Homo sapiens: one gene and its partner. The protein of the gene in region 1 interacts with the protein of each later gene in a biochemical or structural test. Each region holds a gene or a part of one and is shown in the gene's direction. Other genes may lie near its edges.

Region 1 (3,750 bases):
TATAGAGTGAAAACCATAATGAAATACCACTTTTTACCCACTAGGATTCCTATAATCAAAAAGATAATAACAAATGTCAATGAGGAAGTAGAGAAATTAGAACTCCCATGCACTACTGGCAAGAAGGTAAATGGTGCGGGTGTTTGGAGAAGAGCCTGGCAGTCCTCAAAAGGTTAAGCATAGTTACCATAGGACCCTGCACTTCCATCCTAGGAACCTAACCAAGAAAACTGAAACACATGTCCAGAAAAACTCGAACACGAGTGTTCACAGCAGCATTTATTATTCATAACAGCCAAAAAGTAGAAACAGCCCAAATGTCTATCAGCTGATAAATAGAAAAACAAAATGTGGACCCATATAACGGAATATTATTTGGCAATAAAAAGAAATGAATTACATGATATTGTTTTCTAAAGAAAAGAAAGAAATGAAGTAGTGATACTTGCTACAACATAGATGAACCTTGGAAACATTATATTAAGTGAACAAAGTCAGTCGTAAAAGGTGACATAGTGTACGATTCCCTTTATATGAAATGTCAAGAATAGACAAATCCATAGAGACCGAAAGTAGGTTAGTGGTTCCCTACTGCTGGAGGGGAGGTGGGGGGGATTGAGGAATGGTTGCTAACTGGTACTGCGTTTCATTGTAGGGTGAAAAAATACTCTAAAATTGATTGTGGTATTGATTGTACAACTCTGTAGACATACTAGACAGAAACCATTAAATCGTGCTTTTCAAATAGGTGAATTGTATAGTAGGTGAGTTATAGAGATGTTATAAAATTATTATAGGGGAATAGTTTTATGTGACTGACCTTACATATATTCAGCTTTTCTTGAGGTATACTTGCTACACCCAGTTAGATAATTAGTTAAACCAGTCCAGGGTTCAGCAATGAGCTTAAGGGCCTTGGAAGTTACTGTATCAGGATGATAGATAACATGATAATGAATGGGTTAGTTTTCCTACGGAAAATATAGTTAATGTTGGAGATTAGGATAACATCAAAAGTCAAATTAAGGAAAATGAAAACTAGAAAGTGACTGAGAGAATGTTCAAGAACCAGGGGAAAACAAGAGTACCACAGATGCCAGGGGAGGAAAATGTATCCAGCAAAGTGTTGTCACAGTATTAGTTGTCTTGGCCCAGAGGGGTGACTTCAGGTAGCTGAAAGTACCCAGGAGAATAAATATGCTATCCAGACCACTTGTGGACACAGTTGTAGCATCCTGCTAGGGAGAAGCCAGTTTCTAGGAGAATAAAGGAATACCTGAGTAGTAAGTAAATAGAGAAGATGAGGGTAAATCAGTTTTTCAGAATTTTAGGTGCATGGCCTCAAGAAAAAGGAGGTAGCTAGAAGTATATGCATTGTTTAGGCAGCTTAGTTTTGTTTGTTTGGTTTTGGTTTGGGTTTTTTTTTTTTTTTTTTTGAGACAGAGTCTCACTCTGTCGCCCAGGCTGGAGTGCAGTGGCTCACTGCAACCTCCGCCTCCCAGGTTCAAGCAATTCACCTGCCTCAGCCTCCCGAGTAGCTGGGATTACAGGTGCGTGCCACCAAGCCCGGCTAATTCTTGTATTTTTATTAGAGATGGGTTCACCATGTTGGCCAGGCTGGTCTCGACCTCAGGTGATCCGCCCGCCTCAGCCTCCCAAAGTGCTGGGATTACAGGCCAGCCATACATTACAGTGGGCCGAGCCACTGTGCCCGGCCCAGGTAGCTTAGTTTCATCTCTAATGAACACTGAAATGAAAGAAAAAAGTAACAAGCAAAAATTATATGGGGAAAACTAAGAAACACCGTGGCAAGAGGAAAGTAAACATTAAGTACATAACTGGCTAAAGGATAAGAACAGACATTTCACAAAAGAGGAAGGACATACAGGTTATATCCATGGAAAGTTGTCACCCCAAAAGCATTTAGAAAAGTGAATTAAACCAGATGTTATATATGAAATTTAAACAGCATCAATAAAGGAAAATGTTCATCCTGAGGAGGCAATGAAATGGCCATCTCAGATTGCTGATGGCAGTATAAATTGATACAATCCTTTAAAATATGGTTTGATAATAGGTATTAAGCCTAAAAATCTTCTCATTCTAAAATAAATGGTATGTTTAAAATGACATGAGAAGGTTAAAAATGTAAAGATCCTGGATTAGTGATAACTTGATTTTTTTTAAAAAGGAAAATGGATCTTATATAGTGGTGGTAGAATTCTGTACACATATTTAATAGCATGTTTTTAAAGAAAAATGACTTGGAAAAAATCCTTATTACACAGTAAGTACAGAAAACATTGTAAAATAGTAATACTCTATGAAATTTTTATGCTGAATTTTGTAGTGTTACAAGTTTTGATGTTATTCCTTTTTTTTTTTTTTTTTTGAGATGGAGTTTCGCCCGTTGCCCAGGCTAGACTGCAGTGGTGTGATGTTGGCTCATGGCAACCTCTGCCTCCCGGCTTCAAGCAATTCTCCTGCCCCAGCCTCCCAAGTAGCTGGGATTACAGGCATGTGCCACAACAGCCAGCTAATTTTGTATTTTTAGTAGAGATGGGATTTCTCCATGTTGGCCAGGCTGGCCTCAAACTCCTGACCGCAGGTGATCTGCCCTCCTCGGCCTCCCAAACTGTTGGGATTACAGGCGTGAGCCACCACGCCCGGCCCTCGGTGTTATTCTGGCCCTGATTCTATTTTAGTAAATAGATTTTACTAGCAGATAGGGATGGGTTGGGAAGAGGAACCTTAATTATAGAAAACCTCATACATAAAACATTGAAGGCACGGGCCTTGCCTGTCATATATTCACTGCTGTACTTCTCTGTCAGATGTGTGCCTGGCATGCAGTAGGCATTGAAAAAGTATTTGTCGGCCAGCGCAGGGGCTGTTTCCTGTAATCCCAGTTTGGGACCAGCCTGGGCAATATAGTAAGACTATATCTCTACCAAAAAAAAAAAAAAAAAAAGCCAGGAATGGTGCCATGTGCCTATGGTCCCAACTACTTGGGAGGCTGAGGTGGGAGGATCACTAGAGCCCAGGAGTTTGAGACCAGCCTGGGCAACATAGTGAGACCCCCATCTCTACCAAAAAAAAAAAAAAAGTCAGGTTAGCCAGGCATCATGCCATGTGCCCATGGTCCCAGCTACTTGGAGGGCTGAGGCAGGAGGATCGTTTGAGCCTGGGAGGTCAAGGCTGCATAGAGCTGTGATCATACCACTACACTCCAGCCTGGGTGACAAAGTGAGGCCCTGTCTCAAAAAACCAAAACAGCAACAACAGACAACACCAAAAAATAAGAATTTGTTGAATTAAGAGAGCAATGATATTGATTGGTAGATACAAACTTTGATTCTGATTACCCAGAGTTCATAACAGCAGAAATACTGATGTTATGAAACGAAAAATAAGATTTAGCATTATATTTATTCACAAATTTGTTAGACTATATAGGATAAGTTAGGAATGAAATATACATAAACATTGTCACTACTCAAATTCCTTTCTAAAATTTCTTCCTCAAAGTATGATTTTTAAAAAAATTTACGGTGGGTAAATGTTACCATAAAAGATTAGTTTCACAATAGGGATTATTTATATGATGTATAAATGAATTAGTGGATTAGGACCTTTTTTTAATGAATAAGTAATATTTTACTTTTTTGCTAAACTGCTTAAATAGTTATGTCAATACATGTCTCCTAAAAATAAGGATGTTTTCTTATTAAATGTGTTTATAGAAAGGAG
Region 2 (3,750 bases), on another chromosome or scaffold:
TGGGCTAGGGAATGGCACCAAATATCTACCTACAACACCTAGTTCACTAGTTTTGCTGATTTCCTGCGGTTACCTCTTCTGCGGTCCTAATCCTTTGTTCTCTCTCCCCCTGCAGACTGCCAAGCAACTCATCAAAAGGTCAGTGTCTTCCTAGAGGCTATGATCCAAGCACCTAGTTCCCACCAGGACCTCTGTCCAGGAAGCCTCATCCTGGGCATTAGGCCTGCTGGGAGGGTCTCACTCTAGGCTGGCTTCCCTGACCCTTTGCATCCCTGACTTTTTGGACCACTCCTTGTGCTTGAGGTTGGAGAGGAAATACTCCATCCCTCCAGGGGAGCCTCTGGGTAGAAGGCCTGGGCGTGGCAAAGCATGTGCCCTCTCTTCCCTGCACTGAGCCCCAGAGACCTCATCCTGCCTCTCTTTCTGTCTCCCCTGCAGCATTGTGGAAGCTTCCAAGGGCTGCCAGCTGGGGAAGACAGAGCAGGGCTTTGAGAACATGGACTTCTTTACTTTGGATTTAGAGCACATAGCAGACGCCCTGAGAGCCATTGACTTTGGGACAGGTAAAGGAGGTGGTGATGCCACTTGTCTATTTGCCTGCCTGACCCCTGGAAACCAGCATCCCTCCAACTGAGCCCGATGGGGAGGCAGATACACTAATAAAGATCCCCAAATATCAATCAAACTCATATAGCCAACTTCTGGCCGGCTGTGGTGGCTCATGCCTGTAATCCCAGCACTTTGGGAGGCCAAGGTGGGCGGATCACTTGAGGTCAGGAGTTTGAGACCAGCCTGACCAACGTGGTGAAACCTCATCTCTACTAAAAATACAAAAATTAGCCAGGCGTGATGGCATGTGCCTGTAATTCCAGCTACTTGGGAAGCTGAGGCAGGAGAATCACTTGAATCCAGGAGGTAGAGGTTGCAGTGAGCCGAGATTGTGCCACTGCACTCCAGCCTGGGCAAAAGAGCCAGCCAAACTCCATCTCAAAAAAAAAAAAAAAAAAATTCATATAGTCGATTTCTAGATGAGCCCAGAGCCTAGCACAGTGCCTGGTGCAGAATTCCTGCTTCATAAATTACATATGGATCCATGGCAGGGAGGCCTCTTGGGGCAGTAGAAATAATATGCCCTCTGGAATCAGACAGTCCTGAGTTTAAATCCTGGTTCTGTCATTTGTTTATCTGTGTGACCTTTGGCAAGCCCCCTTCTGCCTGAGTTTTATTTTCTAATTTAAAAAGTCAGGTTAGAAGTGAGCCCTCTAATAATGACCAACTCATGGTGCTGTTGCAAAAAATCAGATATCAATGCAGAAAGGTCCTGTAGAGCCCTAAAGATGTACTAGTTATTGCCTAAAGGTAGTCTTAGCTTCAGTTTCTTAATGCTATCACCTATGATACCCAGGCACCTTAATTGATCAACATCATGTCCTCATTTCTGTTTATAATTACTCTTCCATAGAGTGCCTATAATAATTGTAACAATGCAACCGTAACAATAATAAGGGTGAAAATAACAAAGGAAATGAAGAAACTGAATGGAAGCAAATATGTTAATTTGCTAAAGGTCACACAGCTAAAAGGGAAACACAGCTAAAAGGCAACAGAGAAAGAGAGGGCAGATCCCACATTGCTGACTGTTGCGTTGGTCTGAGAGGTGGTGCTCCAATGACCAGCTGAGGTTGGGGGACAAGGGGATGATGAAGGAACAAGGAAGAACTGTAAATGGCTGGCGTGAGAAAGAGAAGAGCTTCTTGGCACCTCCTGTGTCGCTCTCCTACAAACCTTCAGTAGCTGGTGCTAAGTCTGTTTTCAGAGCCCCAGATATACCCCATTCATAGGTAAGGACAAAATACATCCCAAAGCAGAGACACCAATGGCCTTGGGGACATCCACTGCTGTAGTGAGCTGCTCCACTGTCAGCTTCCCTAAGCTAAGATATTCAAGAGTGGGTCAGCCAGGCACAGTGACTCACGTCTGTAATCTCAGCACTTTGGGGGTCCAAGGCAGGTGGATCACCTGAGGTCAGGAGTTCCAGACCAGCCTGACCAACACGGAGAAACCCCGTCTCTACTAAAAATACAAAATTAGCTGGGCATGGTGGTGCATGCCTGTAATCCCAGCTAACTCGGGAGGCTGAAGCAGCAGAATTGCTTGAATCCGGGAGGAGGAGGTTGCAGTGAGCTGTGATCACGCCATTGCACTCCAGCCTGGGCAACAGGAGTGAAACTCCATCTCAAAAAAAAAAAAAAAAGAAAGAAATAGATATTCAAGAGTGGGTCATACGGTGTGAACATAACATTGTGAAGTCCTGCACTGGCCTTCCTAATCTCCCTGAGCCTCAGTTTCTCCACAAGTAAAATGAGGAGAGTACCAACAGTCACCAGTTACTGAATATTCTGTATGTCCTAGGCGCTAAGCCCTTAACATAAGTTTTATCATTTAACACAACTTCATGGGATAGGTTCTGTTACCATCTCTATTTTGTAGTTGAGGGAACTTAAAGCTCAGAGAGGGTAAGCCACTTGTTCAAGGCCACACAGCTGGCAAGTAGCCTGTGCAGATTCTACTGAGGGCCATTTGGCTTGCAAAACTCTTGTGAGGATTTTATAAGACGATGCAGATTCAACACTGAGCACACTACTTGGCACATAGTAAGTACTCAGCAACTGCTATTAAATGTAGTCATTGTGACAATGATTAAACAACAGAACTCCCTGGGTTATACTCTGATATCAGTTACTTGGCTGGAATTTTGGTTGTCATTTTGGAGATACTATTTTTTTTTTTTTTTTTTGAGACGGAGTTTTGCTCTTGTCGCCCAGGTTGGAGTGCAATGGTGTGATCTCAGCTCACTGCAACGTTTGCCTCCTGGGTTCAAGAGATTCTCCTGCCTCAGCCTCCCAAGTAGCTGGGATTACAGGTGCATGCCACCACACCCAGCTAATTTTTTGTATTTTTAGTAGAGACAGGGTTTTACCATGTTGGCCAGGCAGGTCTTGAACTCCTGACCTCAGGTGATCTGACCGCCTCAGCCTCCCAAAGTGCTGGGATTACAGGTGTGAGCGACCAAGCCTGGCCTGAAGATACTCTTGACAAATGTTCTGATTCTGTGGTGACCCCTTCAGGGCCCCAAAAGGTTAAGGAGGTAGCTTGGGAGAGGAGCGGGGAAGGGAGATGTTCCCTGTTAAAGCTTGACGGTGACATCTCAGGATAAAAAAGTGGGGACATGAGTTGCAGCTCAGTCACTGTCCCTCTGGTGCTCAGCTTCAGGGAGCAGAGGTGGCTCCAGAAGTGCTTCCCCATCATGTCCACCCCTCCCCTCCACAGGCTAAGGAATGAGGAAAATGGGACAGTGGCTGCTGAACAAGCAGATCTCATAGGCTAAGTAGCTTCCTTCAAGACAAGGACTCTGATCCCTGAGGATCGAGGAGGTTTTTCCTCCTCAGGCAATGTTTATCTGCCTACCCGAGAGATGTGCAGAAGCACAGAGTGCGCTTCCTCAGAGTCCCCTCTCTGGTCACAGGCGAGCAGGTGATAGAAGCTGCTGTTGCTGGAGCAAGGAAGTGACTTGAGCCCAGCTCCCTGGGACGGAGTGCGGGGGATTGCAGGAGCAGGGCCTCTGTGCAGCGTGGGTCTGGCAAGCCCATCCCCTCCCAGACCACTGCCGCCGCTGTGTGGCCGTTTGACCCGACTGGGCACAGGAAGGGGTTTAGACCGTGCTCTCTCTTGCCTGGTTCCTCTTCAAGT

The links. Proteins that work in one complex are often made in the same cells at the same time.
Region 2: the proteins of UBE2G1 (region 1) and TRIM63 form a complex in vitro, tested with the Homo sapiens proteins (one study listed by BioGRID).

Annotation. Positions count from the first base shown.
Region 1 is NC_000017.11:4,290,001-4,293,750, reverse strand, and holds part of UBE2G1 (ubiquitin-conjugating enzyme E2 G1), read left to right. Parts: intron 1-3,750. UniProt on the Homo sapiens protein: Accepts ubiquitin from the E1 complex and catalyzes its covalent attachment to other proteins. In vitro catalyzes 'Lys-48'-, as well as 'Lys-63'-linked polyubiquitination. May be involved in degradation of muscle-specific proteins.
Region 2 is NC_000001.11:26,054,016-26,057,765, reverse strand, and holds part of TRIM63 (E3 ubiquitin-protein ligase TRIM63), read left to right. Parts: intron 1-115; coding exon 116-138; intron 139-438; coding exon 439-563; intron 564-3,750. UniProt on the Homo sapiens protein: E3 ubiquitin ligase. Mediates the ubiquitination and subsequent proteasomal degradation of CKM, GMEB1 and HIBADH.